2 separate regions of the Homo sapiens genome follow, and region 2 is linked to region 1. A link means that fine-mapping ties the variant in region 1 to the expression of a gene that starts in the linked region. Tissue or cell type: sun-exposed skin. Region 1 holds a variant in brackets; the other region holds the start of a gene. All regions are shown on one strand. Distances are from middle to middle. Region 1 overlaps FMN2 (formin 2). Region 2 holds the start of GREM2 (gremlin 2, DAN family BMP antagonist).

Evidence for each region.
Region 2: it holds the start of GREM2, and the variant in region 1 is fine-mapped to the expression of GREM2 in sun-exposed skin (GTEx, PIP 0.93).

The regions. Positions count from the first base shown.
Region 1 is chr1:240,276,831-240,292,356 of GRCh38, reverse strand. All of the region lies in intron 7 of FMN2 (formin 2), which reads right to left. Among named protein-coding and RNA genes, the nearest start is that of FMN2, 190 kb to the right of the region's middle. The variant C/A (reference allele first, on the strand shown) is at 7,223.
Region 2 is chr1:240,603,836-240,619,361 of GRCh38, reverse strand. GREM2 (gremlin 2, DAN family BMP antagonist) reads left to right here and starts at 7,207. Exons shown (of 2, transcript NM_022469.4): 1 at 7,207-7,478. RefSeq lists an enhancer at 12,004-12,503.

The sequences.
Region 1 (15,526 bases):
GAATGACTGAATGCATTTTTTATTTTTTACTTATTTACTTATGTACTTACCTACTTACTTATTTATGTATTTATTTATTTCGGTGGCAAAAAGATTCAAAGAAAAAACTCCTCAGAAATTTCTTGGTTCCAAGTCCAAAATTTCAGCCTTGTTTCGGAGGAAAGAACCTGAGTATTGAAATTATATCAAGGTGACAGTTCCTCCAAAGGGAATATTATTTTTACAAGATGCTGTTTCCTGATGTGGAACAAACATAGAACATGGAATCGAACTAAACTAAGTTTAAATTTAAATTTTTATTTGCTGCTGCATTACTTCAAGTAAGTTACTTTTTATAAGTTTCAGTTCCTTTATGGGGCAGGGGCAAGGAAATAATGGAAAATATTAGCCAAGTTTTGGTTTGGGGTTTTTGTGGGGCTTAGAGGCAATAACAAGTAAAAGGGTCTGACATGTAGTTGGTTAATGTTACCTCCCCATGCCAACTTTTCACATAAATTCAACTATTAGAACATCCTTCCTGCTCAAGTGAGCCTTGCTATGAAGCCCAAGGTTAAACGAGTTGACTTTTTTTCAATTTGTGTTTTAGCTTCCCCGTGTATCCAAAAAAAAGAAAAACAAAAAATCCATTCCAACTGCATCTACTGAGGGATGGAACCTTTACCTGAATGATAAACCATTAGAGTGAAACAAGAGAGCCTGGTACAGAACTACCTGGGCTTCTTCATTATACTCTGTCTTGTTTATTAGCATTTAAATGATTAAGCAGAAGACTAGATTTCAGATAAATCCAAAATTTAAAAGAATATTCAGTGATAAATGTTTAGTTCAGATTACTTTATTCTCTAATATTCAGCAAGGTGTTAATGTGATTACATTTCAGATTGGAGGTCAGATATCTCACACTCATTTCCTCCTTGCTGCTTTAAGATGCTGAGTAACACCCATCCTTGTCTGCGACTCTTTACAATTCCCACCCCCACCCACCCCCTGCAGGTCTACAATGCAGTTTTAATCACTTTCTCAAAAATATATATAAATCAATTTAACCAGGAAGCATCTGTTCTGTTTTTATGTGAGTGGGTTCAAGGAGAAAGGTGTTGAGAGGAACTATAGACCTTTTTTGCACATTAAAAGATTATTCACTTATTTGTCAAATATGCTACATTTCCAGGATTAAAACAACGGAGATATTTACCACTTCCTTTAAACAACCTACAAATGACCACGTGTTACTAATCACTCCAGCTGGATGTGGTGGCTCACGCCTGTAATTCCAGCACTCTGGGAGGCCAAGGCAGGCGGATCACCTGAGGCCCAGAATTCGAGACCAGCCTGGACAACATGGTGAAATCCTGTCTCTACTAAAAATACAAAAATTAGCCAGGTGTGGTGGTGCATGCCTGTAATCCCAGCTACTCGGGAGGCTAAGGCAGGATAATCACTTGAACCCGGGAGGTAGAGGGCCTAGATCTACCTAGGCCAAGATCTACGTGAGCCAAGATCATGCCTCTGTACTCCAGCCTGGGTGACAGAGCCAGACTCTGTCTCAAAAAAAAAAAAAAACAAAAAAAAAAAACCAAACAAACAGACATCACTCCAGACCAAAATAGACAACAATTCTTGTCTACGATTTTATCAAATGCCAATGTCTAGATAGAGAGTAGAACATAGTAATCTTTCAGGCTTTCATACCAAATGGCTGTGTGTCTTTGATCAAGACACTAAACTTCTCTGAGACTTTATCAAGTGGGATAACTTTCGTTTATAGCATATGCTTATCATGTGGGGAAAATAAGTAATTATATAGTAGAAAAATAATTCAGAAAGGCTTGGAATAATGGGTGTGATTAATTTTAAGGTGTATGTTACCTGTAAACACATTGGTTCAGAAATTAGATTAAAACTAGGTGCTAAATTAAAACTAGGTTCAGGACTAAACATTTGCGTTCAATAGTTAAAAGTTAATTTCACAATAGCTATTCTCATCATGAACTCCTCCGGTACGAACTTGCTCCACCGGTATGAGCTCGCTAAGATCCAATGTCATTGTTGTTAAAGCATGCTGTTAAAAAATGAAAAATGAAATGGCCTGTTTTGGAAGTCCAATCGTCAATTTAACCTAAGATATTTAAAATGTCTCAAAATGTCCAAACAGAAAAAGAAATCTGTTTTCTTTTGATTTTAAGATTTTGATCGATGACTGCATTACATTAAAAAAATAAAAGAATAAAGCAATTCAAAACAACCAAGCATTATAGACTCAACATAAGAAACAGTCCCACTCTTGACTGTGCGCAGGCAGGTGTCTATCCTTGGACACTTGGTCTTTGCTATTAACGTGTTCTCCTCCGTGGCTGCCTTTGTCAGCACCAGAAATGTGGTACATGCTTCTTATTCTAACTTACTACAAATGTTGAATTACCCACAGGCTAGAGAGCAAAGTAATCTATCTGTATGAATGTTTACATGATAAAATGAATCCTGTCTCTATACTTTCAAAGAACTGCACAGAAGGGAAAGGACTTATTTTAAATGTGCCTTAAAAGGAACTCATTTAAAACAAAGCACTTCAACAAAACATTATTAGACAAATTTGTTGATCTTTCACATATTTTGAATAGCCAGATTAAGTAGTTCACTTTATTTGTGTAATCCCTTTTTTTTAGAGAGAGACAGAGTGACAGGGTCTCACTCTGTCACCCATGCTAGGGTGCAGTGGTATGATCATAGCTCACTGCAGCCTCAGACTCCTGGGTTCAAGCAATCTTCTCATCTCAGCCTCTCCATGTGGCGGGGACAACAGGTACATGCCACCATGCCCAGATAATATTTCTATTTTTTTAATTTTTTTGTAGAGAAAAAGGTCTTGCTATGTTGCCCAGGCCGGTCTTGAACTCCTGGCCTCAAGTGATCCTCCCACCTCAGGCTTCCAAAGTGCTGAGATTGCAGGCATGAGCCACGGTGCCCAACCTATTTGTATAATTCAATATGATAGGATTACTCTTGTTGAATGCAACATTTTAAGCTATGGAACAGTGTTAGTACATGCCTTACATTGATATTTTTTAAAATCAGGGATCTGTTGGATGAGACAGGACTGGAGCAGTCTCTCAGGGCTGTGCTTGATGGCCCCTTCCTTTCATAAGCCATGAACACTTATCCCAGCCACTGCAGTCACCTACTTTAATCTTTCCTGTGTGACCTGCTAAACTGGTGGTAAAGATGCCCCAAACTAGAAAATCTCACAGTGTTTATTACCAAGTGTGTTATTCATTTCTGCAGGGCAAGTTACACCAAAGCTTAGGGGCTTACAGAGCACACATGGATTATCTCACACGTTCTGTGGGTCACAAATCCAGGTGCAGCTCAGCTAGGGGCCTTTGCCTCAAGGTCTCCCATAAGACTGCAATCACAGTGTTGGCGGGGGCTACGGTCTCATCTGAAGGCTCTGCAGGAAGATCTGTTTCCAGCCTTACTCACAGGCTGTTGGCAGGATTCAGTTCCTCAGGCTGAGGGCCTCAGCATCTCACTACTGGTTGGCTGGAAGTCTGACTCAGTTTCTTGCCAGATGGGCTTCTTCATAGACAACTCTCAAGGTAGTTGGCTTCCCTTAGAGTGAGACAGAAAGGGCATACGAGACAGGGCCTCCTTCTCTTTGTAACCTTATTTTGGAAGTGACATCCCATCACCCCTGTTCTGTTCTATTCTATTCAGTGTGAGTCGTGAGTGTAGCCCACATATAAGGGCTAGGGAATATCACAGGGCCGTGAGTCTCAGAAGGTGGGGATCTCCAGGGACCATCTGAGGGGCTGCCCATCACAACACATTGCTAACCCATGGCTCTCTGTTCCTTGGACTTCAGCTTCCAACTTGTGTTGCTCTATGGGTCTCTACCTTGTGTTAATTTCATTAATTCGAATGTTTTTATTCTCCTATTAGGCTCTAGGTTGACAAAAGACATGGAGAAGCATCATGATTCAGTGGAAAGAAAAAGTGCACTAGTCAGGAAGGCTGGCTTCTGGTTTAGGCATAACCTATCAAATCAGCTAAACCTCATCATTTCTATAAATAGAGATCATATGAGATACGTTCTGTAGATATACAGAGACGTGTGAGACAATATGGACAGACCCTTCCCTCCATAATTACATGGTCATGCTTCATTCACTGTTGTATCCTTTCTCTATCTAGAAGAACCCAGTACACAAAAGACTTGGAAAAACATCTTTCTCGAATGCTGAAAGGCTAAAACAGGCTGAGGTTAGCAATTCCTGAAAATCAACTCTGCCTTTAATTTTACTGGATAAACTGACCTTTCTTTGAGATCACTCTGATTGTCCTTTCATAAATAACTAACTTCACTCTAGCTGACATCATAGCTCAAAAATACAGAACACAAAGATAATATGTCATGTCACATTGCCACCTGATGGCACTGGAAGGCAGTGGGGCACAGTGACCACACAACTTATTATCTGCATAACCCAGAGAGTCTCAAGTTCCTCATCTGCAGAATGGACCTAATAAGAAGAGGACCTGCCCTACAGAGTTCTTGCAGGAGATTAAATAATAAAAGTCAAATGCAGTGCCACGCACAAAGCAAACACTCAGAAAATGTTGGTTGTTGTGATTATTATTACGGCCCATTTCACATTCCTATAATGGAAAATGTTTTTTTTAATCTCTCTCCAAATCAGTATCTTAGATTGAGAGGTTTCAGATGAACCAGGTTGAAAACATTCTCAGCAAAAAGAAAAATGACAGTTTCAGTTGTACTGATAGTAACATAGAAGACTAAACAAGTAACCAGAGGGAAGCCATTAACACTAATTTGGGTTAAAGTACATGGAAAGAGAAGTAGAGTCAGCAGAAGCTTAAACACAAAATGAGTACAAATCAGCCCATATTTACGGTTCATGCCCTCTTTTCACTGGCAGAGTATAAGGGCTTGAAGAAAGCATCTTTACCCCATTTAAAATACAGAAGCCACAGGAAAAGCTTTGATGAAGTTAGCTTTGCAAGCTGCTGAGAAGCAAAGACCTTTGTTTGAGCAGACACTCATCTTATGTAGCAGAGATCAGAAGCATCCTCTCATTTAAGAGTCAGGTTTGTCATCTTACTCTAGCTACCAGGAAACTACATTTTGTAAGAGATCTCTCTGAGGAACTGCAGGGAGCATGTCATTTCGACTTTAAAATCAGGACGACGAGGACATGTAAGCAGTTAATTTTTGTTTCACTGTATATTTCAGTGAAATAGAAACTTTTACATTTTGGGGATGCGTAATTGAAATGTATCTGACAGTATTTGTTATCTCTTTTGTAAATGTCCTACAAAACATTTTGGGAATCTGGAGTTATACACACTCCCCCATCTAGAAGAGCTGACAGTATAGTGAAGTAGAAAGACACATCGACAAATAACTACACAACAATTACACCACAATAAAAGCACAAGGTAGAGCTTGTGCAAACAGCAGAAAGAACTGCGTTGTCAGGTGTAAAAGATCCTCAAAGTGACAGAGTTTGAAAGTGAACGACTACTAAATAGATGGTCTAAATCTTAATAGCATCACCTAACATTCAGATTGCTTCATTCCATTTGCACTGTGATATGTATTAATACGTACTGCTGGGAAGCATCTCTGATTAAGATGGCACAGGAAGTACACACATTTGATTTTGTTCTCTCCTGAAGTTTCACTAAAGCTATAGTAAAAACATATTTAAAAAAGTAAACCCATAAGGACTGGAAGAAAGAAGATGAGATGACAGCAACAAAATGTGGAAGCCAGCTCTACTCAGTTTCGTAGACCTTAAAATGATAAAACCATAACTTTCACTGAGAAAACTGAGCACCAACCCTGAAGGCCAAGGAACTGGCAACAGGCACTTGTCCAACTGAGGGTAAAGCAAGGAATATCAGAAACAAGGAGCACTGGATGAATGCTGCCAGTCAGTCAGTTACATGCTCATTCTGAAAAAGTCCTTCCCAACTTCATCAGGTTGATTTTCTTGAGAAATTAAATCTAAGTCTCTGGACAAAGACACAGCAATCACAATTGTAGGATAGGTTGCTATGCTGAATACACAGGGACCATGTGGAGTACTGCATGTTGAATACAAAAGCCTCCATACCTCCATTCAGCCCTCCTCCCCCAATTTAGGGTCCAGAACACTGCCAGACAGGCCTTTACACCCCAAGCCAGAAATGGGAAGTCTCCAGGAAATCTCTCCATCCCAGGAAAAAAGACCAAAAGATAAAGACATGGGTGAATACCCGACAAAAAACCCACACCGAAAATGCTACACTGAACTCAAAGTCCAAGAGCCCAACATGAAGACTCAGGGCTTCTCATCACCTTTTAGACTTAAGCAAGAACAGACAGCCAAGGATCAAATCATCTATGGGAAGCCTCTACAAGGGATGTTAGAAACCAGAGCGGGGGAAAAAAAGGAAAAAAAAATAAAGCAGTAAAACTCTTCCAACTCCTACAAAGTGTCGTCAATACTTGTTGTCCCCACCTTCTTCTCTGCCCATCACTTCCTAAACCCACTCATCAAGTCTTTGCTCTGATTACTGAGTCACCAGTGTTTTAGATCTTGTGAAATCCAAATGCACATTTCTCAACCCTTGGCAGCATGTGACACAGTTATAAATTCCTTCCGATACACGTGCTAAACATTTATCCTAGCTTCCAGGATACCACTCTCTCTTCCTCTTCCTCCTACTTCTAATGTTCCCCATTCCTCAGTCTCCCCTGCTGGCTCTTTCTCTCCCTAACCTCTCATTTTTGGAATGTCCTAGGGCTCACTACTGCCACCCTTTCTTACCTCTATCTACACTCACCGCCTTGGTGGTCTCGCCCAGTCTCACGGTGGGCTTGAAATACTCCAGCACTTTCATCTCCAGCTTCCGACCTCCTTCCTGAACTCCTCACTTATAGAACCAACAGCCTTCTCAGCATCACCACTTGGGTGTCTAACAGACAGCACACTCTATACATGTTCTTCTGTCTTACATGACGGAGCCTCCATCTGCTTGGTGTTCAGAGGAACTGTCCTTAATTCCTCCCTTCCCCTCACCTTCCACATCCAACACATCATGAATCGTGTTGGCTTCACATTCCAAACACATCCAGAATATGACTTCACCTCACCACACCCACCCCTACCACCCCATTCTCAGACATTCCCGATTATTGCCTGCAATTCTTGCAACA[C/A]CCTCCTAATTGAACAAAATGTTTCTTCAAACAAAAAACAGGGTAACAGAAAAACCCAATAGAAGATTTGGGAAATACATGTGAGAATTTCCCAAAAGTAGATCAAAAAGGAAACGAAGAGGAAAAAGCCAAGAAATTTAGACAAATTTAGGAAGGCCAACATCCAAATAACAGGAAAGAAAAGGTTGACCAGTTCCTGAGAGTAGATCCCAGCGAGTTAAGATTAACAAAAACCATAGAATCACGTACTCCCTCTGACCATATGCCTGCCAGATATAAAGCACTTGGTTCACACTCTAGCCCAGCCAGAAGCTGTGTCCCTGGTGATCCTTCTGTTCACAGAACTTACTCACTACATTGCCTATTAGTTTTTACGTTTTTAAGGACCCAGAAAAGGTCCTTAAAAATTTGAGGGACTCTGAAGCTAGAAGACAGATTACAACTTAGAAAGTTTCTCTGCCTTTCTTTTATAATCCTTCATCTAATAGTAGAAATATTTCCCTCTTCTTACCTAGCTAAGTTTGTGTTTGTCTTTAGGTGTTAAAAGACAAAACAATATAAAGTTGAGGAAAAGTTGTGTAGATGGACAAAGAATTCCAAGAGTGGACAGCTGGGGAAGGGAAAGTGCTTTTATAGAAGCTATCATCTGTATTCTAGTGGAATTAAAGAGAAATAAAAACTGAATTCCAATATCTTTGAGTTTATTAGGAAGTAAAATGAAAACACAGGGTCTAGATGAGGGGGAAAATGTCAGTCATTCCTGACTGTTTGTTTCTAACTCAATCCTCCCCCCCAGCTTAAAAGATTGGCTCATATTAGGGAGTGATATGGGCATCTAGTTAGAATATAGTGATGAAGATTATTTGAAATATGAATGAAATCCTGACAATTACCCACATGACAATATGGCCAAAGTGCTAAATACATTTGAATCAGTTAAAAAATTGTTTTCAGCAGTAAGTAAAAGAATATCTGAGTAGATAGAGACTTGAACAAAGCTAAGGTAGGTTGCCATTGATTCAGGGGATAAAATATGTTAGGGCCCAAAATTTTTAAGTGGTCTTCACATGCCTTTTCCTTTTCCTCACTTGGAACAATTGCTGCTACTGTACCAGCCATCACTTTCACATTCCAGGCCAGACGAAGGAGGAAAGAGGAAAGCAACAAGAAGAAATGCACAATGCCGATGGATCATAAATTTTTAGGAGACTTCTACTTACATCTCACTGACCGGATCAGTTTCCTATGGTCACCTGGAAGGAAAGGGAAACTGGAAAGTATGGCTCTAAATGTGGACGAACTGCTGTTTCTAACAAAATAGCAATTTCAAGCTCCAGTCTAAGTAATCTCCAAAACACTCCATAAATACCAAGGCTCATGACTTTCCCTACCTTTGGATTCCACCCTTTAACATTAATAAAAGCCATCTGATACACTCCAGCTACTCCCTCTATTGTATAAAAGTATGTGGTTGGTCGCTCCAAGAAGATTTTTAAGAGCCTAATAGCAGGGATCTTGTCTTAGACATTATTGTATCATGCCAGAGTGTCCTGCATATAGCAGACAACTGAAGAAGTGTGTAATGTGAAAAACAAAAGTCATTGCTGAACCTCCAGGGAAAAGTCATAATAGGTAACCTTAAGAAAGGATGCCACCACTCACACATTTGCCTTATTGGCTCCAGAAATGCACAAAGGCCGAAATGCCTGAGAAAGTGAAAGCCAAATAAATACTGGCATAGGCAAAAATCCCTGCTGCAAATGGTAATACAAGCATGAGCCTCTAAATAGTAATGAGGAGAGGAACTGCAAAGAAAAGAGCAACAGACAGACATTACTAGGGGAAGAAGCCTCCTTTTCCTCCTCTGCATCTATAATCTGTGGTGGATACAAAAGGCTCATTTTTATTTTCAGGGCTGCCTTAATTTTTATTTATTTCAATTACTGTTCTAATTAATCTGCTGAGAAGATGTAAGAAGGAAGAAGAAAAAAAAGAAAAACACAGCTTGGCAGAAATGCCTAGAACTATCATCCCTCAATCTTTATTTGAAACTCAATAAAGCATAGAAACCTTCGGGAGGTGCATGTCACTGTGCAACTGGATGTGAAAGGAGTCAAGAGTCACACCCAGCATTGTTTTCTAAGGAATAGAATGCTGATGCATCAATCTCCAGCTGAAAATCTGCACACCTGGGCAGTTACATTAAAAACTTCCAAAATGTATATTACATAACAAAAATTTTCTAAAGAGGTAGCCAAGCAACTTTTAAATTTGTGTTGGATTTTGCTTGGCTTAGTTACGTGAGCATATCCAACAGCTGATGAAAACTCATATTTCAAAGGAAGGAAGACACTTGCTACCATATTCATCGGAACATTTTACACTCGATGATAAGATGAAAGGAAATACTACTTGCATTCTTTCTGCATCTCACCACTAAGATGCTTGGGCACCTGGAAACCTGGGGCCTTTGAGTATGCACACAAACGTGGGCATCTTGCCAGAAGACGTGCTGCCAGGCATTCTTAACATACACCTGAAACCCTGCACACACGCTCGTGAGTAATATTTCAAGTAATTCTGGATTATCTAAAGACCATGATAAAGGCCAGTTAAATGGCACATATACCAACAGCATTCTTCTTTTGATCCCAAATTTAAATAGTGGCGTTCTATTCCTTGTATTTGTAAGACTTCTAAATTTTATTACTCTCTTCTGATTAAAAGCTCTAGTTTAAACAGTAACATGTTTACTGAGAAGTCTTAACTCACCAATATAATAACTCAAAAGTTGTGGTTTTCTCCAGAATTACATGAGACTTAGACCTTGTGTTTTGGATTTAGATAGACCTGAACTAAAAACAGGGCTCTGTGACTAACCAGCTGTGCATCTCTTGGAGAGACTTGGTAAGCTCTATGAGCTTTGGTTTATTCACATGGGAAATAGACATATCAGTGGTAATGTTATTATCCCCTTAAATGGATATTATAAAGATTAGAGGTAACTCCTCTATTGTGTGGAAAACAGTCCTTGTTATAGCAGGCACTCTAAAATGAAAGGTTCTTCAGTTTTCGGTCAATGTCTAAATAGCACATATACCTTTGTAGATATATTTGCTCTCATAAAGCAAAATATAAATTAGAAAATAAGACTATAAGTTTCGTATTATTGTTTGGACCTTAAAAATAAAAGGACAGTATATTCAAATCACGCATCTATATACAACTGGGCTAATTCCCAATTTCATGAACCAAAGTAAATGAAGATCTGCTTAAAGAATAATGGAAAAATGGGTTATTTTCAAACCAGCAGTCAGTGTATAAATTGCTCTACAGTAAGAAATGCACAAATACAGTACCTTAGAGATATTACCAAAAAATGAGTGATATTGTGTCATTTGTCCTTCCTTTATTGCGTATTTTAAATTTTGCTAATTAAATGGTACGACATTGAAAGGAGACCATTTATTAAAAACTGTAAGACAAAAATGTACTCTCGAGAGACATGCTTTTAAATATCAGAAATTAATGTAATAATTACAAAATATTTTTATTCATCCACAGAGAAGACAGAATATCTTCTGGAAAACATCATTGATTCATTGAACAAATATTCAGAATTCTAATTCTGAGCTAGGTACTCTTGTCCGCCCTGAGGATACAGCATAAACCAGACAGACACGGTTCCTGCCCTAGTAGAGTTTACACCTTGTTATCAAACAGTTAAAATACCATATGTCCTAGGAAGGAAGAAAACTGCATTTTTTATAATATCCTATAATTTAGAAATCACTTTAATTTGTACTATCTTCTCTTTTTGAACAGTTTAGCATGATGGAGCTTTACTGTAAGATACAGACAATAAAATCCCAGAATGCCATAGACTTTGCACTCAGGCTACATAAAGAAAGGCTTTCCTGCAAGAAAAAACTAAATCCCATACACAATCCAACACTGGTACATCTCAAGCATACTTGCTTATACAAGGTTAACGACATAAGTTACTGATTAAGTCGGTAGGCTTCATACACCTATGGGCCTTGTTTATAAGAGCTGTACAAGTTAAATTGTTAGAGAACAAATGCATTTTGTTTGAGTCAGTATGTCGCCGTCTTGTCTAGGCAGGAGGGAAAAAAATGGATACCAAGACTGTGATCCTTTTGGAATAAAATCTTTAAATGCAAACATGATTACCATTGTAGACTGTTTAATCTAGCGATATTGTATTTCATTTCTGTTTTTGGAGAGGTTTGTTGATTTGACCACACTGGGTACGACTCGGCGCTTATCTCAACTGTTTAGATAAGATTTATTTGACTTTGGCAGGTGACAAAATCTAGGGTGTGGAATAAGGGAGGTAGAAAAAAGACGGGTATATTCCCAGATAGTGTTTATTTTAAGCATAGTGTATAGATGAGCAAAGAGTTTCAAACAACGCACTGTACTTTATGTAAAACATCCACTGTCTGTTGAATGTTTTCCGTAAACCAGCACTGCAAAATGTCCTTTATTGGGCATAACAGATTTCACCTTCTTGCTTAGGTAAACATTTATGCTCTTGTAAAAGAGGGCTTAGTGAGTTCCCCTGGAAATAGAACCCTAACTCTGGGATCACATTTTGCCACTGTTTTCTAACACATGCTCTAAAAGGGGCACAGTGATAAACTTTATTTTGAATGTAAGCATATATATTGCTCCATAAGTCCAGAATCTATCAGAAATCTAAAATGTCTTATGCCAAAATAACTTTCATACCAATAAGAATCATCTTTTTTCAGTGTAGTGCTACACAAACATGTCTCACTGAAAGAAACCTAAAACAGAAAAGCTTGAATTATAAACACAATGATTATAATCACAATTTTAAGGGAAAAAATTTTCCTTTTTAAAATAGTTCACCTAAAACTTCATTTAAATATTCAACTTCTTTAGTATATGTAAACATTTATATATTGGCAGACATGCTGAGGTAGGGGGAAGAACTAAGAAGTTTGGTCACTAAAAATTAAAAATTCATAAAAAAAAGAAAACTCAGTTGTGAATTTGTAACATATGACTGAGAAGATCAGAGCTCACATACCAAAATTAGACATGTTAGGGTAATACCTTCCACTGTACTACAGAGATCACCTTAATCAACTTGTATTTCATTACATTTCCAATATGTTTAAAAACATGAAAAATCTAAAACCCACATATTTATCACCCTCCCTTTGGAATAATTTTGTTCCTATTTACATCAACATGTAGTTAATATATGCAAAAATATGATACACTGGTTTTTGTGTATGTTGAGTCATATTTTGTTATTTGTTCAGTTAATGAAGGTTTCTTTTTTCTCTTCTGAAGTATATGTTGATGTGTAAAAATTACTTTAATGTTTCCTTGTCTAGAAGAATGAGGAATTAGTTAAATATGGGGAGGTGTTTCAAATATTAGGATTTATCTGATGTGCTTTTAATTAATAAAAAGTTGCTTCTAAGTAAAATAAATACTTTTCAAATATAAGATAGAAAGGCCTCTGTTCTAATTCCTCCACTCACATTTTTGAGTTCTAATTAAAGTTCCAGAGGTGACTGGTGCCTGGAAAGTGGACTGCTAAGGGAATTTTCCTTCTATTTACTGTGCTGTCCTCACACTTTCCATTCTCTCCAGAGTTCAGTAAGTACCACCTGCTTCTTACAGTGATGTCTTCACAAAGGAGATTATCAGTTTTGCTTTTCCCAACCCCAACCTCTTCCTCCTTCATTGCTTTAAGTATCCAGTGACTTTCAGCATTTCTGCAACTGCAGAAATGAGGTGTCCCACACATTTTGATTTAATTGAGCAAGATGTATCTGTCCTCTTCTCACGGTATCAGAATTTTTTTTTCATTAAAGAAAACCATTTTTATTGTCAGAGCTTCCTAACATCCTTCAATCGCTCGTAATATGTGCAAATAGTAAAAATATAGGATAGGCATCACTGTGTTAAAAAGCTTGCATGGAAACCATTGGTTGGAGGAAGGTTTAACCTACCTCAGGCACCGTGAATTTTCAGCACTGACGTGTCCATCATATAACACTAGTTTCAAGTCTCTTCTCTTCCCCCACTGCCCAACTAGAACAAAATTACAGTTCGAGCTCAGGTTGCTCTATGAATAGTAAATGTCTCTTCAAGATTCCATTCAAATAACTGGACTAAAATTTAGGAACTTTCTCCATAGTCCCACACCTACTGGCTTGACAGGCCAGGAATCTCATTCCATCATTACAAAAATCTGCTATGGTCTTTTCCTTGGCTGCTCCTATACATAAATAATCCCATGAAAACTGAACCAATAAGAAGTAATGCAGACTTCAAATTTCACAACTTATACATATAAAGATACTCTGGTATTTTCATTTGTTTCTTATTTTCAAGATGTGCAAAGTCAATCTAAATGTATCTGTGTAAGGGAAATCGTTGCTAGTGGCTAAAACAGTTTAATAAAGCCCTTAAAAGTTAATCTCAGCTGAAGTTATGATCCTCATTGTTAAAGAAGAAGCAATTTCCTATTAATAAAATTCCTAAGGAATATCAAATCTCCTTCCATTCCTCGTCTCTTCTAGCTGAGGAAAGAGGAGAGTAAGTGGATTTGTCCTCACCTGCCAGGCTACCACAAAGGAAAACTCAACCTCTCCCCCAAATTCCTCTTTGGCACAGAATAAATGAGTTAAAGTCGAGGCTAAAAGTTAACTCCCCAGACTTCATCGTATTTCAACACTTCGAGCCTTTCACTAAGTATTCTGAAATTACTACTCAAGAGTATCACAGATGCTAGAAGAGTCACGTCATGTCTTTGTGACACCCAGACCTTGTGCTATGTGCAGCAGGTGATGGGAATACAGCACTCCAAAGATCGTGACCAAGATAATGACAACTGACCCTACAAATGCTCATTCCAGACACTCTGCAGCAGTGAGGCCAGGAGCCCCAAATGCCTGTTTATATAGTTATGAAATAAACTTTTAAAAGTGGGCACTTAGCAAGAAGCATTAATATATGCACAGTGTAATAGGAATCGGGGTTCATTGGACCACTGATAAGTACATTTGAATTAGAAATAATTCATCTCAAAAGTGTAAAGTATGCATGTTGGTAACTATTCTAAACATTTCAAATATTTCAAAAAACAGTAAAGCCTCTTAGAATTTAAATAAACATTTGAGTTCCATTTTTAACGAACTCAATATTTTTAAGTTTATTGTTTACCAGACATCTAAATATTTCAAAAGCCTTCACTCTGGTAAATAAGGCAATGTTAGAAGATGTAGGTACGGGCCAGGCGCTGTGGCTCACACCTGTAATCCTAGCACTTTGGGAGGCCAAGACGGGCGGATCACTTGAGGTCGGGAGTTCAAAACCAGGCTGGCCAACATGGTGAAACCTCGTCTCTACTAAAAATACAAAAAAATTAGCCGGGCATGGTGGCAGGTGCCTGTAATCCCAGTTACTTGGGAGGCTGAGGCAAGAGAATCACTTGAACCTGGGAGGCAGAGGTTGCAGCAAGCCAAGATTGTGCCACTGCACTCCAGCCTGGGCGACAGAGTGCAACTCTGTCTCAAAAAAAAAAAAAAAAAAAAAAAAAGAAGAAGATGCAGGTACTTAAAGTTGGGTAAGGCATAATCTTCATAAAACACATCCTTCTCCCTCCATTTATTTGAAAAAAAAAAAAAGAAAAGGCAGAAAGGTTCAATATAACTGTATTCAAACATGGCAGTCCTAGAGTCCGGGAGAGTTTAGACCTGCTGGTCTTAAACGGATTGATCATACCAGATTTTAAAATAAAAAATTCTAAGAATTAGAAGAAATATATTTTTCTAATGAAATAATTAATGTCAACTTGGATCCCATCAATAACTCAATCTGTATTCTCTTCCAAATGGCTACTGTGACAAATATTCAATGTTATTATCCAACAATCCACCAAAATGGTAATTGAATTTTCTGTTTACATTTAATTACAGTATTTTACGTTTATTAAATATAATATTTCCAACTTATCTTTACATGAATGTTAGGAAATCAAGAAAGCCGCTATTGTTTATGTTCCTCTGTATGGAAGAAACATTTAACAGGATCAAGGATTAAGTGGCAACAGTGCAAACACAAACACACAGCCTGATTTTAAAACAACTTCCTGATTTAAAACAACTTGGAAATGCAATTTCCCCAGTGAACTAGTGTCAAGTTTGATGAGAAAATGAGGCAACACTGAGCATTCTGTCCCCTTTCCAGGCAGAGCCTCGAAAAATAGAAAATATGCTCAATATAGAATACATC
Region 2 (15,526 bases), 330 kb before region 1:
ATACAATATCCAGTATAACTAAGATAAATGTACATGTATCTGTTAACAAGCATGCTGGATCTTATCTATGAATAAGAGTTCTGGTCTCCAAAAAAGTGACTGTAGAAACGCATAGCATCTGTCAGTTTAGGTTGCATTACGTTACAGTCAAGAAATGACCCCAAATCCCTGTGGCTTATGACAGCTAGATTTTATCTCTCACCCATATGATGAGTCTGCCTCACATCACCTGTGGCTCTACTTCATGCCATTCTTATTCAGGGAACCACGGACCTCATCGGTTTTCTGGAAGAGAAAAAAGAGAAGTGGTAGACCACACAATGGCTTTTAAAGCTTTGTTTTGGAAGCACACACAGAACTTTTGGACATATGCTAATGGCTACAATAAGCCAAAGTGCCAAGCCTCAGTCAGGGGAGTAGGCCTATATTATCCTTTCTCAGGAATGGGTCCTGTGGGCAGGGAAGTGAATATTTTGGACAATAATACAATCAACCACCATCAAACATTTAATTCAAACAATATTTCTATTGGATGAAACAGACTGGGATTCCTTCTTCAGAATTATGTTCTGTGCCAGTTTACAATCCACATAAGGAAGTCATCTCTCCTTTAATAAATTCATCAATCAGTTAATTTTTTTTTGTTTTTTTGAGACGGAGTCTCACTCTGTCGCCCAGGCTGGAGTGCAGTGATGTGATCTCAGCTCACTGCAAACTCCACCTCCTGGGTTCAAGTGATTCTCCTGCCTCAGCCTCTCAAATTGTTGGGATCAGAGGCGCCCGCCACCACACTTGGCTAATTTTTGTATTTTTGGTAGAGACAGGGTTTTACCATGTTGGCCAGGCTGGTCTCGAACTCCTGACCTCATGTGATCCACCCACCTTGACTTCCCAAAGTGTTGGGATTACAGGCATGAGCCACCACACCCAGTAGTTAATTTTTTAACAAATTAGTTTATAAATTGTTATTCAACTAACTTTTACTGAGTGCCAGCTCTGTACCAAGAATAGTGGTAAGCACTGGTTAGAAAAACTCAAATAAGATACAGTTTCTGCCCTTAGAGAGCTTAGAGACTTTTCATATATCACATTGCTTTAATGGTACTCTAAAATGGAAATAGCCAGTTTAGTCTCCCTGGTGAGGAATAGCTCTGAATGATTTGGGCTTATTTCTAAAAGCCAAATCAGTATACTTCTCTATGGGAGCCCAAAACGATCCCAGAGAGGACACTCCCCCAAACCATATTGAACACATAGATTCTCCCCTCCACATTCAAACGCTGGTTACTGAGCTTCAGTAGCCTTTGCTATTCCTGGCATGTGAAATGCCTGCTCTATTGAGCTTGGATCCTGAATTTTATAAAGTATTTTCTCCAGGCCAGACACTGTGTAATCCTTCTAAACAAAAATCTAATTTAATCCTCCTAGAACTTACATCATTGTCACGTAAACTTTATTTTATATATGCAAAAACTGAAACCCCAGAAAAAAAGCAAGGAGGCCAGGCATGGTGGCTCGTGCCTGTAATCCTAACACTTTGGGAGGCCAAGGTGGGCAGATTGCCTGAGCTCATGAGTTCGAGACCAGCCTGGGCAACACAGTGAAACCCTGTCTCTACTAAAATACAAAAAATTAGCCAGGCATGGCGGTGTGTGCCTGTAGTCCCAGTTACTCGGGAGGCTGAGGCAGGAGAACCACTTGAACCCGGGAAGCGGAGGTTTTAGTGAGCCGAGATCGCGCCACTGCACTCCAGCCTGGGCGACAGAACGAGACTCCCTCTCCAAAAACAAAACAAAACAAAACAAAAAAAGCAAGGATATCCAAGCAGTAAGTGACTCAGGATTCAACCCAATGTTGACATCGAAGTCCAGGCACCAAACTACGGTGCAATAGTGTTCATCATCTGAAACTTAGCCTGAGGCTAAGTTTCAAACTTCTTAAATTATGGTACCTGCTTTGATTTTCTATTGGGCTTTTTTCCTTATGTACTCTTCAAGGAGGAGAACGTCACACAGATGACCTCAAACACTAGAGATTTGGTGTATGGATACACACAGAAACAAAGGAAATACAGGCAGGGCCAGTGGAAGCTCAGAAAGATTAAACAACTGGACCTCATCTTTTCTTGCTCATACGCAAGACATACATTAGAGGTCTATTAGATCTTCATAGACACCTATTCTAACCATGACCATAACTAGTATACTCTCTCTTCTCTGATTTTCTGACTTTTTTTTTTTTTTTTTTGAGACGGAGTCTCACTCTGGAGTGCAGTGGTGCAATCTCGGCTCACTGCAACCTCCACCTCCTGAGTTCAAGCAATTCTCTTGCCTCAGCCTCCCAAGTAGCTGGGATTACAGGTGCGTGCCACCACTGGCTAATTTTTGTCTTTTTAGTAGAGAAGGGGTTTCACCATCTTGGCCAGGCTGGTCTTGAACTCTTGACCTTGTGATCCATCCGCCTTGGCCTCCCAAAGTGCTGGGATTACAGACATGAGTCACCACATCTGGCTTGGTTTTCTGACTCTTTAAGCTTATGTTATTGCTATCAAATGACAAAGTTAGCTACAGATAGAGAGAGAGATAGATAGATAGATAGATAGATAGATAGATAGATAGATAGATGGATGATAGAGAGATAACCCTAGTTCAAGCTCATCAAAAGGAGAAATCTGATGGACAGCCACCTCCCATTATCTCTGCATGGGTGGCAGATTGGCTCCCTTTGAGTCCAGCATGCTCTCCTAGTCTGGTGTCTGTAGCTGTAGGGGCAGATGAATGTGATACTTCTACAGCTATCTATACTACTATCTAGGTCTCCTTCTTCACCTGGGCTATCGGGTCTGGGAAAGAGTTAAGGAAGTGGCAGGTGCCATGATGGAGCCATTCTGGCCACTCCTTCAGCTACATTTGTCAATCTGAATCTTAGTTTAACCATCTCCTGCGTTCACCGCTTATATGATGTCATAAGCACATGCAGGTCAAAGGTGGCTCTGCCTTCTCTTCACTCTCATTTTGCCCTCTTCACCTCTACCCATCCACATCTCAGAAGTAAGAGTACGGCGCAGAGGCCTTGCTGACATCTAATAAGCATGGGCTAATGAATCAAAAAACCCACAACCACCTGCTCCCTGGGTCTTAAGGGAAAATATAGGGATTGAGCTGAATACATGGTCATTCCCTTTCCTATTAATTTCCCCAGCTCATCTGTGGGTTGTGTTCTCTGCTCCACTGGGGTGACACAAACATGACAGATGGCACTCTCATAGACAAGGAGTTTATTCTGCGACACAGTGAGAGCTATATATTTTGCTATAAAACTCTTATAAATCACTCATATATTCTGGGTAGAATCACCATGACACAAGAGAGATAAATGTTATTTAATACATGTGAACAGTTGAAATTTGTGAACCGCAAGAGCATAGATTCATATGTATCAGTGAATCATAAATATAGATTTCATTTTGAGGTTTTGATGTAAACATACAGTATTAATAAACAAAGTTAATGACTTTCTAGAAAATAAAGGTTTCTTATATGGTGGAGGAATAAATATTGAATAATCAGTAAATTGAAGAATTTACAAACTTTGTGCATCAAAAACACTTTAACAATTTAAAAAGTAAACTATGATAATCTAAGAAATAATTATAGCTATAAAAGGACAAAACAAGCACGTACGGATTTATCAATAAATCCATAAGTTAAAGGGAAGCTATTAAGATAAATAAAGAGATAACCAAGGGGAAAACATTAGCATTAGAATGGCGTCCAACCTAGGCTAGAAAGAAAACACATGAATAGGTACAGACAAGATCAAGAATGTGATCTTACGCTTATCACACTGGGAATGCAATGTCAGTCTTCGGCAAACTAGTCATATGGAAATCTTGTATCTTTGTATAGTAGAGGAAGAATTATAAGCTCTTCTACTTTTTCTTTTTTTTTTTTTTTTTACTTTTTTTCTTATTACAAATTATACATATTCATCATAGAACACACAGATATGTCAAAAGAAGGGTAAAAGACCATCTGCGGTCATCTATAGTTCAGAAATATACTTAGATCGTAATCATAATCTTTTAAAAAATTTAATGGCATACTATGAAAATTATTCAATAAAATTGTAAATTATTCTGTAATATAGTAAAAGCCAATAATAGCATCAAAGATGATTTCGAGCTGAAGTAAACCCTAGGTTACTTAGTCTGACCTTTATAACAATCCCTTCATAATCTCTGCAAATGACTGTGAGTACTTTTCTTGACCACTTCATTGACCTATATCAAAATCTCCAAATCATCACTTTGCCAGGAAATTCTTTCAATTTCCGAAAGCTTTAATTTTGAGAAGTCTTTTGCTATCCTGATTTTTGCCTACCCTTATTTTCTCTCCAGAACAGCACTGGGTTTCGGGTCCACTTCAACTTATTCCCATCCTCTGGCATCGTAACTGTGACTACATCAGGGTGACTTTACTATACAAACTCTTTTAATCTCTAAAATTAGCCTAGTAGCATTTATCTTACATTCCTCATAGAGTTGTTTAAAAAAATCAAGAAAGAAAATGTTTATAAAAATGACAATACATTTGAAGCATTATCTGAATAATAAACATATTTCCTCTTTTACCTTTACTGTTTGAAAATGTTATCATTTTCACCTCAGTTCCTACTCCAAGATGCCTGATTCTCTCTTGCATCTCTTATAAATTATAATATTCAGAATCATCATCTTATCAACTCCTTTGGATACATGCCAATTTGTGAATATCTCCTGTAAAAAGTGCCACACTGAACTAAGCAGGATGATCCTGATGTGGCTGAATAAGTGGAAAATAAAATGATTGTTCTGTCATGAATCTGCCCGGCTGTCCGCTGCTGTGCATGCTGAGATGCAAGCGTTTTTATTATTACGGATGTCTGTGTCATTTATAAAGGATTTAAGAAATGTCTTTGAAAAACTCTTTTAAAGGTAGCAAAATGACGAAAAGACTAAATATAGAATAATAAACACTGACGATTTATTTTCCCTTAACCACACAACTGATGGGGTATAGATGTCCTTTAAATCATCCAGTTTTGCTCTTCATTAACTGAAGGACAGAGGGCTTGAATTATTATCTAAAATGAAGTTTAAGATAGATCTGTGACTTTAAGTCACCCATGATTTCACTTACACTGTCTTTTCAGTGCTATGAAGAGCTATAATGAGCCCTGAAAATAACAAGCACAAAATACAATGATCTACTTGGTTTTCTCAGTAACTGTTTCTCTCTTTTCTAGAAAGGCAATTCGAAGGCAAATTATTGGTAACTTATCTGAAAATAACATGACCCGTTCTGAAATAACATAAATGACTATTTACCAAGTTGGACAGATGATTTCATGAATTGTTAGCTCTTCTGTGCAAAGGCAGGCAGGAATGAGAGTCAGCTGTGTTAACCCTTTGCTTTCCTTTGAGTCAAACAGTTTGTATGAACAAACAGGGCAGTCATCCACTCTCCCAGCTCTATTTGCTGTCTGCCTTCAGCAAGTCACTTTATCATTCCTCCACTCTGTTTCTCCACCTGGAAAATCTGGAATATCATACCTATAACTCCTTTTTTTTTCGAAGACTGTTGAGATCTTTAGAAGAAATACATTCTACACTTTCAAAGATTTATGACAGTATTTTGTTTTTAGCTGCCTACCTAAAGAAAGGGAATGAACTGGAGTTGTTGAAGCAATAAGGATATGCCATTTGAGGTTAGACTGTGGTTAGCAGGAACCAACTGCTAAACGTGGTTTTGTTTTGTATTTCCTTTGTCAATTTCAGCTGATTTCAGGCAGGCCCATTCTGAGAATAAGGCTGCATTTCACAATTCCTGTAATGTGCCCACGTAAGAAAGAAGGCAGGTAGTCTGTTTGGTGATAGTATATTTCAAGAACTAATTGTTATTTCCTGTGAATTTGCAACCCAATGTGCTGTGAGTTGAGTTGGAACTAGAATATCAAATACCAAATAGCATACAAAAGGGATAACACTGCAAAAAAAAAATTCAAGTCAAAAATCAAAACAGAGCTCAGAGATTTCAGAAGCAATGGCTTCTTGTCAAGAATAACTGTCATTAAAATTTCCATAAGCACCAGTGAAATTGATTTTGGGGAAAAGTCTAAGGGAGGGTCTGTTTTATAAGACACACTGAAACTTTATTTTATTCTGAATTTCCCCAGCCAAGTTTGTAAGATCTCAGATTTTTCTTGGGCCCTTTCCCTGCCAAGGGGCCAAAGGTTTATCTCTATTGACACATACAGATAAAAAATTTTCATCCAGGAACCTCTATCAGCAGAGTCTGAATAGTCGTCTTTGGCTGGTGAATCACACTAAGGGAGTCTCAGTCCTGAGATGATCAGTGGTGAGAAGTTCAAAAAATAATGAAAAGAGCAAGCACTTAGGCGTCACAATACGCTTCTGGTATAACGCACCAAGCCGATGGAGCACAAGAATTGGTCTGGCGTCATTGTTTTATGTTCTCTGGATGTTGAAGAGTCTGATTTGCATTAGAAACCTCTGCATTCAATAAACAAAAATCAGGATAATAATGACCAAAGTACTATTTGGAACAGAAAACAAATTCAAGCAATGGGTGTTTTGCACTGAATTCATTCAAGATTTTATTAGTTAAGCTCTCACTTAGGTTATTAGGCTCAGCTTGCTTTTTATTTCACTGGCCTCAGTTACTGCAAACAAAAGGAGCCTGGTGTGTGTGTGTGTGTGTGTGTGTGTGTGTGTGTAAGCGCACGTGTATGAGAATGTCAGACATATCACACACAGGCTTTCTACATTCTTCACATTGGAAACCCATCAGCAAAAGGAAGAAGATCTGAAGGGAATGAGTGTTTTTTTTTTGTTTTTTGTTTTTTTCTGGTTTAGGGGATGGAGGGAGAATTTCTCTACATAAACAAGAAGGTTAGAATTGGAAGTCTGCTAAAAAAAATGTTAGAGCTGACCACAGGGTTGTAAATCCACTGACTGGAAGGAGGAAAAGAGAAACATTGCAAGCGACTGAAGTGTGTGGTGTGGCTGCAATGTTTGTGGGTTAGATGAGAAACAAGCGCTGAGTGAAACAGAGAAGGGGGGTGGCTGGTGTGATTTGTTTGGTGTTCAGAGCCAATAGAAATCCCAGACTCTGATAATATCCCCATGCAGCGCCGAGAGGATTCAGAGCTAAGTCTCCGGGCTCCTTTCACATCTGCAGGAGCAGCCAGCCTGGGACCGCGCGGCGCGGGGCGCGCTCTCGCCTCTCCTGCACCCTCAGCCGGCGCGCTTCTCTTATGGGCGTCTGCTGCAGTCTGGCTGCGGTCGAACTGAAAGCGGCGGCGGGAGACCAAACTTAGACCCCGCTGTGGACTAGAGAACTCAGAGAAGGCAGAGGGAGAGGGAGAGAGAGAGAGAGAAGGGACCCGAGGAGGAGGCTTCCATCACGTCATTGCAGGTACGCAGCTTGTCACGACTAACGTGACACAGACACGGTTTCTGATTTCTACCTTCACCAGGCACTTAGAATGAATTGACGTTGTTTGTTCCGTGGCTGGTCAGGACCGAAAGCCCTGAGTGGACGTCTCGCCGGTTTCACCCCGGGTAATTCAAGCTGTTGGCGTGTGTCTGGGGGCCACAAGGTTTATTCACCTATTGAATTATGCGTGGGTGTAACATAAGGACCTTCAAACTTGACCGTGATCGCTCTTTCTTTCTCTTTTAAATAACGTCAATACCAATATGTTGTCATCCCACCAATAAATACCTCTTGGTGACCGCCATTCTAATCATGACTATAGCGAGGCAAACACCATCCAATTGTTAGAAAGCGGGCTACGAACCTCTCCCACCTACCTACCAGGTTAATATCCTCCCTACAGGAATAGGAACCACAGCGGACTTCGGCAGAGTTTTGATTTTTTAAAGCATATGGCCAAGGTGCACCCGCCTCATGAGGGAAATATCACTATTATCACTACGCTGTGGTTGAAGGAGAAGAGAGAAGGGAGGTAGTTATTTTTTAACGTGATTGTCAGTGATCCTTCCTGTGTACCTGACTTATTTCTACATTGTCTTACGAGTTTAAAAATGCATTTGTATTCTGCACGCCAGGCACGTTCAGTTCCAGGATCTCACATATTACTACATTAAAAAGTCATGAATTGGAACTATCTAGTAGATGTGATAGTTGTAAGAAAATATTGATGTTTGATTTTATTTTATTTGATCCTAAAACTCATAAACTTCTATTTCTTTTTTTTTTTTATTTTGAGGTGTGGGTTTTGTTAAAAAAATCTATTTCCTGAGATTTTATCATGTTTGATTTGAAATTTTAAAGATAGTTATATAACTCCCCACCCCTTGATGACTTGTGATTAAATTAGCATTGCTTAATGAGTTCAGTCTTTCCTGGGAAAAGCCAGAGGGGACTGCAAGAAGTCAGTTAAAAAATTGGTCTTGCTTTGCAGTCTTCAAGGGCTGGCTGGTATTCATGTGGCTCTGAATCCCTATGAAAAGCGCTTTTTCTGCAGTGGAACAGATTGGGACTCCAGTACAGCCAGAGAATGGCTCTGCAGCAGGTGCAGGGGCAATCAAATACCTTACCTTTCGTCTAAACAGCACTCTTCCCAGTGGAGTCTTAGTCGATCATATCCAAACCATTCACTGATAATTCGCAATCGACTCACCATTCAGCCGTGCTTAGCTTTCAAGGTAGCCTTTGTCCCAAGACATGTGCCCGACCAAGGAAGATAAGAAAGTTATAAGAAAGGTATTTGTGTTGTATATCACAGTGGAGAATTTATATCGACCTTTTTTTGTTTGTTTGTTTTTTGTTTCTTATCAGATGAACATGTTCTTTCTGTCATTAAAGGAAATGCATGCTTAGCTCTACCATAGAGTCAGGAAAACTTCATAGTTTTTGCCCATCGACTGATCTGAATGATTTAACTGGGTGCTTTTTGAAATCGTGTCAAAGTATAGACATGGCAAGTGAATATTATATTTGGGAGAAGGCATTTTAACTTTATAGATAAATTTTTTTTCCTTTTACATCAGAAAGAAACTGTAAAGAACTGATCTGTGCAAATAAATATAAGTTAATCGACCCAACTACATTCTATTGGTAAAGAGTTGTTTTGTATGATTGTGAGCATTTGTCAATCTTTTATAAATAAAATAGCTGCAATAAGTTGGGACCTATTTCTGTCTTATCTTTCTAACTCTAAAGCAATGTTGGGTGTGTTGGTAGCAACTTTGTGAGTGTGAGACGGATTATATTCACTTTGTATAGACTAGGAGACACTGATGGCTTTTCAAAGATAAATATAAACAATGCTGTGATTATTCATTGTTTTTTGCTATCATTCTTCACCGAGAGAGGTAATCAACAGTTCATTCTCTATGAATCTTAGTAGAGCCAGCCAGAGCTTTACATACCCTCGAGTTATAAGTTTGGTAAAGTTTAAACAAGGTACATGCCTTTAAATCTCTTTAAAGTAAACATCTCTTTTTCTAATGCAAAGGAATGGTATTAGACTCTCAGTTCTTATTGATATGGAGAGGATTGGCCTGTCTGGGTCAAGGGCAGACACTGAGAGACTGCAGAGGCACAGGCACTCAACAGATTAGTTCAGCCACTTTTGTACTTCAGTGTTGCTACAGCAATTGCCCCTGTGCAACGTGCCAGGTTGCAGGCATGTTCTCAGTATCAGGGTCCTTCAAATATCTACGGACAAAAAAGAATTATTTCAACCAGGGAAAACGTGCCCAGCACTCGGCTTAAATGGGTCACACAAGACATTGTTTTGAAGGACAAGGTGTTCAATTAAAAATTAGACCTATGGTGCCATCTTCTTCTTGGATTAGCTGCTTCTTGATAGTTCTTTTGTTTCTAATAATATTAGGTATAATAGGCCTAATAATGTCTAGAATTAATTTTGATCACATGTCAGGCTAAAATGTGGTCCTCAGACTCAACACTGACCAATGACTTGAGCAGATTTCCCATCACCACCACTTCCAGTTGGAAAGATGTCTTTAAGTGGCCAGCACATTGATGGGACCCAGACGGTGTTGGCGCACTGATTTGTAGAACAGAGTCCCAGAGCCACATGGATGTTAAGGGGATGGAACGTGAGCGGGTGGAAGCACAAGGGTATAAAGTGACATGATATAAAGATTGACATGCTTCAGTATAAATCCTGGAGCCAAAGGAAAATGAAAATGAATGTATTTCCTCTAATTACCTTCAGATATAGATTTTTGATTAGCTTCAAGTATACATTTTTGATGAGACATCCTGAATATTTTAAATAAACTCTCTTGTGTTCTTAGGTATATCCCACACAGGTGTGGGGGGAAAATAAATGCATTTGATGTACTGTAACACTCCTGTCTATACAGGCCAGGAGAGGGCAGCATGCAAACTCTGAAAAAGTGATTTGATACCTCCCCCTGACCATGAGGAAGACTCCGGTCGCCAAATGGCTAAAAAATCTCCCTCCAACTTGAAGTGCCCTCTTCCCTTTGGAGAGCCAACTCTAGAGTCTTAGTAAAGGCACACCATCCAGAAGGGTTTGTTTCTATTTTGGCCTCCAGAATTGGTGCTACCTGGCAAAATCAGAAAAGCAGCAGCATATTTCACAGTGAACTCAATTTCCCTTTCTTTTAATTAGCTTTACCCTTTGAGCCTATTCAAGCAGGGGAACACTTGACCAGCTCCTATGAAATGCTAAGTTGACTTCGTCTAGAACAAACATTGTCTGCATTAAAAATATTATTCAACCTGGCTCTATAGGTGTGACTGTAAAGGCTGAGAGGAAGCTAATCTTATCATCTATGGAAAACTAGCTGCTTCTCTCTGCTTTTATGCAATTATAACACGAACCCTGGATAATGCATTGTATTTTCTAATTATGGTAGCTACGTTTTGGGAAAGTTGATGGATGTGTGACATTGTACTTAGAGTTAATAAAAATCCAGCAGCTCTGTAATGAGATTTCTCTGCCTTTGCTAGGAATTTAAATCTCATCAGCATTTCAAACGATCTTTACTTTTCTCTTATTGATAATGTTTAAAAATTAAGATTGTTCTAACATTTGTTGAATGCATACCATGTGCCAGATTAGAGTAGACACATCTCACAGATTATTTAATTCAGTCTTCACCACAGTCTCAGGAGTTTATCTTCTGCAAGTTTTACTGAGAATTTCTTGTAACCGTAACATCTGATAGCTGAGAACATATTCCTTCAGTCAGTCAGTCCTACAGGCATGCATTCAACAGATATCTATTGAGTCTCTTTGTATAATTATAAGATAATAACAATTAATCATCAACAGTATGGTTGCTTTTACTAGTATAGTCCTTTACATTATATTTTCACATACATTCTTGTGTTTAATTCCTGTATTTCACATACATTCTTGTGTTTATTTCACACATTCTTGCATTTAATTCCTGCCAGTTATTCACATATGCAAAAACAATAACAGCAAACATCTTCTATAGCACTAGCCCATCATTAAATGATTGAATTTACATATATGATTTCAATCATGATGGAATATTGATTGATTTAGTTTCAGATCCACAGGAGTGGATTTGATCAGATGTTTATCATCCATCTAATAGACGAAAAACAGATGAAAAATATTCACCCTCAGGCCCACTACTTGAGAGCAACATAGATCTGTGTAAACTTTAACTTCTCTGCTAAGAGCGTGCTCAGTGTCTGGAGGCACCATCCCCTGGCCTGCAGAGACCACCTTTCATGGTTCCTTATGAAAACTTGGAGCAATGCAGAAATATGTGTCTTCAAACATACGTATTTAAGACTTCAACTTGACCAATGGTATGGAAAATACACTTACAATGTCATTTCTATGAACTCAGAGAATGTAAACTTTGAAGGAAACAGGCAAAAAGCATCACTTTCTGTCAGAGGGTCTAATAGTATTAAGACTTTTTTTGACCTAGAAGAGAGTTATCTAGTAATTATGAAAAAAAAAATTTAACCTAAGAAACTCAGGAGACCTGGGTTTGCACCTGTTTCCATTTTTCACATCCTTGGGGAAAGTCTACACTCTCTCTTGAGTTTACTCTTTACAATGAGAAGGCGGAAGTGGCTCACTGGGCTTCATTCCAGCTGTAAACATCAATTCTACGTGCTTCCCTCTGAGAAATGGCTGACAGTTGTTAGTTAAAGAATGATTATTTGCTAAACATTTTATAGGTATCATCTAATCCTTACAAAAATCTTAGCTAGTAGTGTTATTATCCTCATTTACAGATGACATTACTAAGACTTAGAGCTTTCAAAAAGTGACACAGTCAAGCATGCTGTAGAATCATTTCAATCTGGCAGGGCTCAGTGGCTCACGCCTGTAATCCCAGCATTTTGGGAGGCCGAGGTGGGTGGATCACTTGAGGTCAGGAGTTTGAGACCAGCCTGGCCAACATGGTGAAATCCCGTCTCTACTAAAAATACAAAATTAGCCGGGCATGGTGGTGCACGCCTGTAATCCCAGCTACTTGGGAGGCTGTGGCAGGAGAATGGCTTGAACCTGGGAGGTGGAGGTTGCAGTGAGCTGAGATCGCGCCACTGCACTCCAGCCTGGGCAACAGGAGCGAAACTCCACCTCAAAAAAAAAAAAAAAAAAGAACTGTTTCAATCTTAACTCTTCCACACTTCCTCTAGTATGTTGTGCCTTCATTCACTTACAAGTACTGAAAAGATACTATGTGCATAAAGCAGTGTTCAAGATTATAGGGCATAATAGTGAAGAAGACAGTTAAGGTACCTTAAAGAGCTCAATACTAGTAGGAAAGACCAGGAATAACCTAATGATTACAGTGGTGTTTGTTGGGTATTATAACCAGGATCCTCCGAAAATCTATGGCATTGTTTTGGCCTTACTAACAAAGCCATTTGACAACACAAGTCTTTTCATTGTAATAGCTCAAATTTTTTCTTTACATCATTTCAGATATTTTTTCCACTGGAGTTTAATATGGTTTTAGTCTTCCTTGTATAATTATTTTTGTAACATGTTTACATCTTTCACTAACTTTCAAGCTCCCCTGAGGGCAGAGGCTATTTCTTGTTCTTCTTTTTATTTCTCAGCACAAAACTGATGCTTAAGGAACTATTTCTGATCTGAATCTATTGAGATCCAGCTGCAGCTAATTTAGAGCTAGGATCAGAGACTGCTGCTTATCTGCTGAAAGACACAGTCTTCAAAAAATTCTAAACACACACATCTACCATAGGCTAAACAAATGACAAACCCAGTCTTTTGTCCTGGGAACTTTTTGTTTTTTTTCTTTTTGTCTTGTGTTATTTATCCCTTATGCTACAGACTCCTAAATGTTTAAAATGATCATTTCAGTGAGAAAATAAAAATGTCATGAAAAATCAATTAATTTTTTAAAAATTTACGACTTAGACATTAAAATACTAAATCAACAATTTTGATAGGTTTTGTTTTTCCAAGTAGAAGAAAATTTATTTATTTATTATTAGAGAATGCCAAGGTGTTCCTGTAAATTTATCTGTCATTCCCCTGGGATGGCCTGTTCATAACAACCTGGAATGCACGCTGACTTTCTGGGCTCATTGCTTCCCCTTGGAAATTAACAAATTCTTGCTCAAGCAGAAGAAAATGATAAGATTACTGAAAATTCTGGAAACGCTGTGATTTTTGGATTAGAAGATTTAATTTAGGAGATGCAGGAGAGTTTTTAAGGGGACTAATTTGTTCTATGTGGTTTTCAGAGGTTAGATTTTTAAAAAATCTCTATAAGGATACTTTTTACCTTGGTGATTTTTTATTTGTTTGTTTGTTTGTTTTTTGAGACAAGGTCTCATTCTGCTGCCCAGGCTGGAGTGCAGTGGTGCAGTGGCATGATCTCGACTCACTGCAGCCTCAACCTCTCACGTTCAAGTGATCCCCCCACCTCAGCCTCCGAAGTAGCTGAGACTAGAGGCATGTGCCACCATGCCTGGCTAATTTTTCAATTTTTTTGGAGATGTTTGGAATGCTTGTTCCTTGGTGCCATAAAGAAATAGCACTTGAACATAAATTTAATATATTTAGTAAGGCCATTTTTACTTCCGTAGAAAGGGTACACTCGCCAGCAGTTTTGCCACGAGAGTACACTGAACAAAGGAAACAGGGTCATTTATAACCTGACGCATCCATCCTACTGCTGTGTCTGGTTTCCATTGGCTGGAACGGGACCTCACATTCTGTATTTGTCCCGATTGGCTAGCAACTTAGAACTTTTTAAAAGAGGCAAAGGTAGAGGAGAACAAAGGAAGGAGGAAGTAACTTGTGGAATGCTGAGAAAGGTAAAAACACTTTTAAATAAGGAAGAGGAACAGGCTATGACCTAATGCTTGCTTGGACCAGTATAAGCATGCCAGGGCAAATATTTAGGAGCACAGGTCTGAATAAATTTTGCTTCTAAGAGAAGTTACTATTTATTCCTAATTAGATGGGGAGGAAAGTCTTTGAAGAGGAACCTCTACTTTTACTTTTTACAAAGAGATGGGTCTCACCATGTTTGCCAAGCTGGTCCCGAACTCGGGGGCTCAAGCGAGCCTCCTGCCTTGGCCTCACAAAGTGCTGGGATTATAGGCGGGAGCCACCATGCCCAGCCTACTTTGGTGTTCTATAAGAATTGAGGGGAATCTGTGACATTTGATAGAAAAAAAAATTGCTTCTTGACTTCCACTTACCTGTAACTGAAATATCACATTCTCTTTAGTTACGAATGTAACAAACCACAGTAACATCAGTGGAATCACAGCTTTGTCACCAATAGAAATCAGAATTACTTTCATGTTACAGTTGATACCAGAGTCTCAAAATATCACTTACACTTACCTAGTACTTAAAACTACTTGAAAATTATGGAAGTGATCATACCTGCTTTTAGATCTCATTATTTAGTCCCTTATAAACAGGACCAGACAATTGTATATCATACATTTTATACACACACACACACACACACACACACACATACGTATAGTTATATAAAGCTGATCTAATTGGGATATTTGTCCCCTCCACATCACATGTTGAAATGTGACCCCCAATACTGGAGGTAGGGCCTGGTGGGAGGTGTTTTCATCCTGGGGGTAGATCCCGCATTAATGGCTTGGTGCCCTCCCCACGGTAATGAGTGGGTTCTCCCTCAGTGCATTCATTCACTTGAAAGCTCGTTCTTTAAAGAGAGCCCGGCACCTCCCTTCCTTCTCTCCTGCTCCCTCTCTTACTGTGTGACACCCCTGCCTCCCCTTAACCCCTCGCCGTGAGTGGAAGCCTGTTAAGGCCCTCATTAGAAGCCAAGCAGAAGATGCCAGCACCATGTTTCTTGTACATCTGCAGAGCTGTGAGTCAAATAAACCTCTTTTCCTTATAAATTACCCAGCCTCCTTGGATATTCCATGATAGCAGTGCAAATGGACTAACACAATAGCATATATATATATAT